2 linked regions of the Homo sapiens genome follow. The protein of the gene in region 2 purifies or fractionates together with the protein of the main gene of each other region. This does not show direct contact. Each region holds a gene or a part of one and is shown on either strand. Other genes may lie near its edges.

Region 1 (3,500 bases), on a different chromosome or scaffold from region 2:
TGCACTGGCGAGATCATAGCTCACTGCCACCTCGAACTCCTGGGCTCAAGGGATCCACCTGCCTCAGCCTCCCAAGTGGCTGCAAATACAGGCATGTGCTACCATGCTTAGCCATTTTATTTTATTTATATTTTATTTTTATTATTATTATTATCTTCTAAAGACAAGGTCTCACCAGCTTGCTCAGGCTGGTTTTGAACTCCTGGGCTCAGGTGATCTGCCCACCTCAGCCTCTCAAAGTGCTGGGATTCCACATCCCGCTGCAGCTCTGATTCTTGATTAGTTTCCCCGTCACACACATGCACACAAACACACACGCACATCACTACCACCGTCACCACCACCACCAGCAACAAAAACTATACTTTATCCCTGTCATGGGGGCAAGAACAACATTCTAGCTTCTTTCCAGGGCAATAGTTCATAGGTCCTGGAGCCTGTTAGACCACCTTCCTTTCTGTCCCTATCCTTACACCAACTTCAAGCAAATGGACAAATGGATCTCTACTTCTCTGCGAAGCATCTCACTGTCCCCTACCCTTCCCTGTTTGTGTCTGCCTCTCCAGAATCATACAGGGGCAATGGCAGTGGGGAGAGAATTTGGGCATGAAGTTGGAGAAATAAGGTTAAATGTCCCAAACAACCAGTCTCCATGGCACTACGATTTGAAATTTACCAAAAGAGCAAAGATGAAGAGTGTGATCTATATACATAATGGAATACTGCTCAGCCATAGAAAAGAATGAAGTCACATCTTTGAAGCCACACAGATGGAACTGGAGGCCATTACCTTAAGTGAAACAACTCAGAAACAGAGTCAAATACCACACGTTCTCACTTACAAGTGGGAGCTAAACAAAGGGTAACATCCATAGAGCATGGAATGATAGACACTAGAGCCTCAGAAGGGTGGGAGGGTGGGAGCCAGGTGAGGGCTGGAAAATTATTTATTGGGTACAATGTTCACTATTTGGGTAAGAGTTACACTAAGGCCGGGCACGGTGGCTCACGCCTGTAATCCCAGCACTTTGGGAGGCCGAGGCGGGTGGATCACGAGGTCAGGAGTTTGAGACCAGCCTAGCCAATACGGTGAAACCTTGTCCCTACTAAAAATACAAAAATCAGCTGGGCGTGGTGGCCCATGCCTGTAATCCCAACTACTCGAAGAATTGCTTGAACCCAGGAGGTGGATGTTGCAGTGAGCCGAGATCACTCCACTGTACTCCAGCCTGGGCAACACGGCGAGAGTCCATCTCAAAAAAAAAGGGGTAGTTACAGTAAAAGCCCAGACACTACCACTGTGCAGTAACATATCCATGAAACAAAGCTGCTCTTGCGCCCCCTACATCTACAAAAATAAATACATAAAGTAAAAAATAAAGAGCAGAGCAGACAGAAAGCATTTAAGCCACCGAACAGCACAATCGAATCAGAATTTTCTAAAGGACCATCTTACTTTTGTGCAGAGAATGGTCGGGTGAGGGAAAAAGGCAGACACAGGGAGACCAAAGAGCCAACATTCATTCAGTGCGTGCTTTTGACCACTGATGGGTACTAAGATGTCTGTCCAGGCGTGGCAAAGATGACAGCAAGACAAACAAACGCAAACCCCATCCCCGGGGAGCTGATGGTCTAGGAGGTCACTGCGTGTCCAGGCAAGTGGTGACAGTTGCTGGACCTGGGCTGGTGGGGTGAGGACGAGGAAAAGTGGAAAACAGCTCGGGTAGGAGGAAAAATTGATAAGACTGGTGACAAGGTGAGTGTGTTGAGCCGGAGAGGGAGGTAGCAAAATGTCCTAGAGTGGCGGACTTTAACACTTGCTGTGCAGCTCCTCAAAAATGCAGACGCCTGCATGCGTCCACAGAGCAGGGAATGAAACAGAGCTAGTGAGGCGGCCCAGGCACCAGCGCGGTGGGGCGTGTGAATCTGATTCATGGTGTGGGAGAAAGCAAGCACATTTTTTATTATTATTATTATTATTATTATTTTGAAATGGAATCTCGCTCTGTCACCCAGGCTGGAGTGCAATGGCACGATCTCGGCTCACTGCCATCTCCGCCTCCCGGGTACACACAGTTCTCCTGCCTCAGCCTCCCGAGTAGCTGGGACTACAGGTGTGAGCAAGCACATTATTAATAAAGTCACAGGAGATTCCCTGTGACATTTCAACCCATACAAAGCATTCTGACCAGGCTGGGCAACGTGATGAGACCACATCTCTACAAAAAAAATACAAAAATTAGCCAGCATGGTGGTGCATGCCTGTAGTCCCAGCTACTCGGGGGAGCTGAGGTGGGAGGATTGCTTGAGCCTGGGAGGTCGAGGCTGCAGTAAGCTGTGATCACACACTCCAGCCTGGGTGACAGAGAGAGGTCCTGTCTCAAAGAAAAAAAAAAAAAGTATTTTCATAGTTTTTAGGTGAGGTTGCCATTGTTGTAAATGGCAAATTCTCCAACTCTCATCTATGAACATGGCCCATGAGGAAATGGAATATATCGAGCATCATGGTTGTTTCAAGAAATGACTTTTTTTTTAGTTCCTCATTCATTCTTCCCCACACAAAACTTCCCCAGCTGGCCTCCAACCCATTCTACCTTCTCACTTGTTCTGGGCTGAACTGTGCCCCCCCAAAAATTTACATGTTGAAGCCCTAATCCTCAAGACCTCATAATGTGGCTGTTTTGGGAAATGGGGTCTTTAAAGGAGTGACTAGATTAACATTAGGTCTTGTGTAGTCATGCCTGACTGTGCCTAATCCATCAGGACTGCTGTCCCTGTAAGAAGAGGAGACTAGGCCACTCTTCCCCCCAAGGCAAGATGGCATCAGTACACAGGGAGAAGGGGGCATCTACAAACCAAGGAGGGCGGCCTCAGAAGAAACCAACCCTGCTGACACCTTGATCTTAGACTTTCGGCCTCAGAACTGCAAGAAAATGAATTTTTGTTGTTGAAGCCATTCAGTCTGTGGCACTTTGTTACAGCAGAAACCACACCACCGGCCGGGTGCGGTGGCTCATGCCTGTAATCCCAGCATTTTGGGAGGCCGAGGCGGGCGGATCACCTGAGGTCAGGACTTCGAGACTAGCCTGGACAACATGATGAAACCCCATCTCTACTAAAAATACAAAAAATTAGCTGGGTATGGTGGTGGGTGCCTGTAATCCCAGCTACTCAGGAGGCTGAGGCAGGAGAATCACTTGAACCCAGGAGGCAGAGATTGCAGTGAGCCGAGGTCACGGCATTGCACTCCAGCCTGGGCAATAAGAGCAAAACTCTGCCTCAAAAAAAGAAAAAAAGAAAAAGAAAAGAAAGAAACCACACCAGCAACCTGGTCCTGAAGATCTTTCTCCAGTCTGTTTCTCTCTCTCTCTCTCATATGAACTTGCACTCACACAGATCACATGCACGGGGACTCACCACAATCTCCGAATGTTACAGCCAGGATGCTGGAGCGTTTCACACAACACTCTCATCCCTGGGTCCCCCAGAGAATTGTCACT
Region 2 (3,500 bases):
GGTTCAAGTGGCAAAGGAACACTGGTCAGAATGTCTCTTTCCTTGGCATCACCTGCTAGATCTATGTCTGTGCAGGAGGAACAGCACAAGGCCATGGGTCTTTCTTTAGGATAAATGCCCAAGAATTCCAAGGCTCAGGAATGTCTGAGGTCTGGCCCTTAGCTCTCAGGCCCAGTGGCCTGTTTGCTTCCTCACTGGATGGAAGTCGGGGGAGGACAAGCTAGGAAGTGGGCAGAGTCTAACTGAGAACTCGCACATCTCAGGCAAGGGCTGTGTCCGCTGTGCTTTGTGATACCTCTGTGTAAGCAACTTGGGTTTGCCATTCAGGGGGTTTTTCCACTGCATGTCCCCAGGAAGGCCACCAGACACGGCTGCGAGTCCCCGCTGCCACGCCCAGGAAGGAGACCCAGTTGACGGTACCTGTGTGCGTGATTCCTGCAGCTTCCCCGAGGCAGTTTCTGGGCACCCCCAGGCCTCAGGCAGCCGCTCACCTGGCTGCCCCCGGTGCCAGGACTCCCATGAAAGGAAGAGCCCGGGAAGCCTAAGCCCCCAGCCCCTGCCACAGTGTAAGCGCCACCTGAAGCAGGTCCAGCTGCTCTTCTGTGAGGATCACGATGAGCCCATCTGCCTCATCTGCAGTCTGAGTCAGGAGCACCAAGGCCACCGGGTGCGCCCCATTGAGGAGGTCGCCCTGGAACACAAGGTAGGCACTCCCTGCCTGTGGGCTCTTCTCTGCCAGGCACTTGGACACACTGGGCCTTACTTCATTTTCCCAACAACTCTGGGTTGTTGGTGCATTAACCAGCATTCTTGGGCTGGAAATGGCAAGAACACAATATAAACCAGTCCAGCAAAGAGGGGAGCTACAGGTTTATGTTGCTCAGAGATCCAGGGGGAGCTGGCTTCAGGTATGGCTGAATCCAGAGGCTCAGAGGAAGTGCCTCTCAGCTCTGCTGCCTTTGGCAATTCAGCCATTCCTCCCTCCTCTTTCCTGAGCACCCCTCCCCATGCCGCTGGCAGCAGCACCCTCAGCCTTGCTACCAGAAGGAGATGTTCCCCTCCAGAGTTGGCACCAGCTAAAGATGGCAGGAGCCAAATTCAAGCTTTTCAACAAGTGCTGTTTTTCCAGAAGAAAATTCAGAAGCAGCTGGAGCATCTGAAGAAGCTGAGAAAATCAGGGGAGGAGCAGCGATCCTATGGGGAGGAGAAGGCAGTGAGCTTTCTGGTAAGGTCAGAGGTGGCTGATGGCCCATCCGTCCCTGGGAGGAAGGTGGGAAGAGTGAGCAGGGGTCCCCGAGATTCTGCTGTGGTTCACAGGGCAGCAGGGATGGCCACCTCCTCTCAGGGGACAGAGGGTAACCAGCAGCCAAGGGTAAGCTCATCCCTGTAGAGGGAGACCACCCCCAGCAGGCAGGGGTCACCTCTGAGGATCCTGTCATGCTTTCTCATACTCACCAGAAGATGGTAGAGAGCAACCTATGCCGGTGACTACTGCAGAAAGATGGGATTGAGGAAAAGGGAGGAGAACGCCACTTTCTTTTTTTGTGACGGAGTCTCGCTCTGTCACCCAGGTTGTAGTGCAGTGGTGTGATCTTGGCTCACTGCAACCTCTGCCTCCCGGGTTCAAGCGATTCTCCTGCCTCAGCCTCCTGAGTAGCTGGGATTATAGGTGAGTGCCACCATGCCTGGCTAATTTTTGTAGTTTTAGTAGAGATGGGGTTTCACCATGTTGGTCAGGCTGTTCTCGAACTCCTGAACTCGTGATCCGCCCGCCTTGGCCTCCCAAAGTACTGGGATTACAGATGTGAGCCACTGCGCCCGGCCAAGAACACTTTTAACTTCATAATTTACTCTCTGTTTTTTTGTTTTGTTTCCAAGATGGAGTCTCGCTCTGTCACCCAGGCTGGAGTACAGTGGCACGATCTTGGCTTGCTCCAACCTCCACCTCCGAGGTTCAAGCAATTCTCCTGCCTCAGCCTCCTTAGTGGCTGGAATTACAGGCGCCTGCCACCGCGCCTGGCTAATTTTTGTATTTTTAGTAGAGACGGGATTTCACCGTGTTGGCCAGGCTGGTCTCAAACTCCTGACCTCAGGTGATCCACCTGCCTCGGCCTCCCAAAGTGCTGGGATTACAGGTGTGAGCCATCGTGCCTGGGCTGGTTTTTTTGTTTTTTAGGGTTTTTTTTTTTTTTTTTTTTTGAGATGGAATCTCACTCCGTCGTCCAGGCTGGGGTGCAGTGGTGCAATCTCGGCTCACTGCAAACCTTCGCCTCCCCAGTTGAAGCAATTCTCCTGCCTCAGCCTCCCGAGTTGCTGGGACTGTAGGCACATGCCACCACTCCTGGCTAATTTTTGTATTTTTAGTAAAGACAGAGTTTCCCCATGTTGGCCAGGCTGGTCTCGAACTCCTGATCTCAAGTGATCTGCCCAACTCAGCCTCCCAAAGTGCTGGGATTACAGACATGAGCCAATGCACCCAGCCCAAATTTCCCCATTTTATAAGACAACATTTATATTGGATTAGGGACCCACCCAATCCCAGTAGGACCACATCTTAACTAATTACATCTGCAAGAACTCTTATCTCCAAATAAGATCACATGCTGAGTACTGGGGGTTAGGGCTTCAACGTGTAAATTTTGGAAGGGACACAGTTAAACCTTAACACCAGGTTTAAGGACATTTTCCCAGAGCTAGCCCCAGCCATGCTCAGTCTTTTCTGGAAGGTTCCAGACAATATCGCCTCCTGCTCTGGAATCTAGGCCTTGAAGAGGCAGCATAAGCCCACCTCTTATCCACCTCCAGGAGGTGGGCTTCTGGGGGTTCCTGGACATCCACGTCCACCCACAGCACAGACCCCCATACCTCCCTGTCCTCTGCTCCCCAGAAACAAACTGAAGCGCTGAAGCAGCGGGTGCAGAGGAAGCTGGAGCAGGTGTACTACTTCCTGGAGCAGCAAGAGCATTTCTTTGTGGCCTCACTGGAGGACGTGGGCCAGATGGTTGGGCAGATCAGGAAGGCATATGACACCCGCGTATCCCAGGACATCGCCCTGCTCGATGCGCTGATTGGGGAACTGGAGGCCAAGGAGTGCCAGTCAGAATGGGAACTTCTGCAGGTGGGTGTGCCTGGGCCCGGCTTTCTTGGGTCCCCTGTGCCTATCAGGATGCCTCAGGCTCCCAGCTCTGCCATCAGCCGTGCTGGAACAAGTGGGTGAAGCCCCTAAGGCCTAGGATAGGACTTGGTCTTGGTGACCCACAGTGCCTCTTGTGCCCAGACCCCTTTGATGAGGTCTCTCAGGAGCCCAGGGTGGCCTGGTATCCAGGGGATCTCTGCCATTTCCCAGAAGGGATCAGCAGGGCTTGAGGGCCGTTCCATTGCAGGCCTCGCCACCTGGGATGCCTGAATTCCCGTGGTTAGAATTAGACTTGAAGAAAGGTGCTCCACTTCCACTGACACCCTAGGGCAGGGAGCCCTGGTAAGTGCAGCGGGGAGCTAAA

The links. Proteins that work in one complex are often made in the same cells at the same time.
Region 1: the proteins of MEFV (region 2) and NLRP3 purify together in Homo sapiens (affinity purification with western blotting, with the first as the bait; one study listed by BioGRID). This does not show direct contact.

What each region holds. Positions count from the first base shown.
Region 1 is NC_000001.11:247,429,673-247,433,172, reverse strand, and holds part of NLRP3 (NACHT, LRR and PYD domains-containing protein 3), read right to left. Parts: coding exon 3,418-3,500; intron 1-3,417. UniProt on the Homo sapiens protein: Sensor component of the NLRP3 inflammasome, which mediates inflammasome activation in response to defects in membrane integrity, leading to secretion of inflammatory cytokines IL1B and IL18 and pyroptosis.
Region 2 is NC_000016.10:3,246,634-3,250,133, reverse strand, and holds part of MEFV (pyrin), read left to right. Parts: intron 1-353; coding exon 354-703; intron 704-1,129; coding exon 1,130-1,225; intron 1,226-2,887; coding exon 2,888-3,118; intron 3,119-3,500. UniProt on the Homo sapiens protein: Involved in the regulation of innate immunity and the inflammatory response in response to IFNG/IFN-gamma.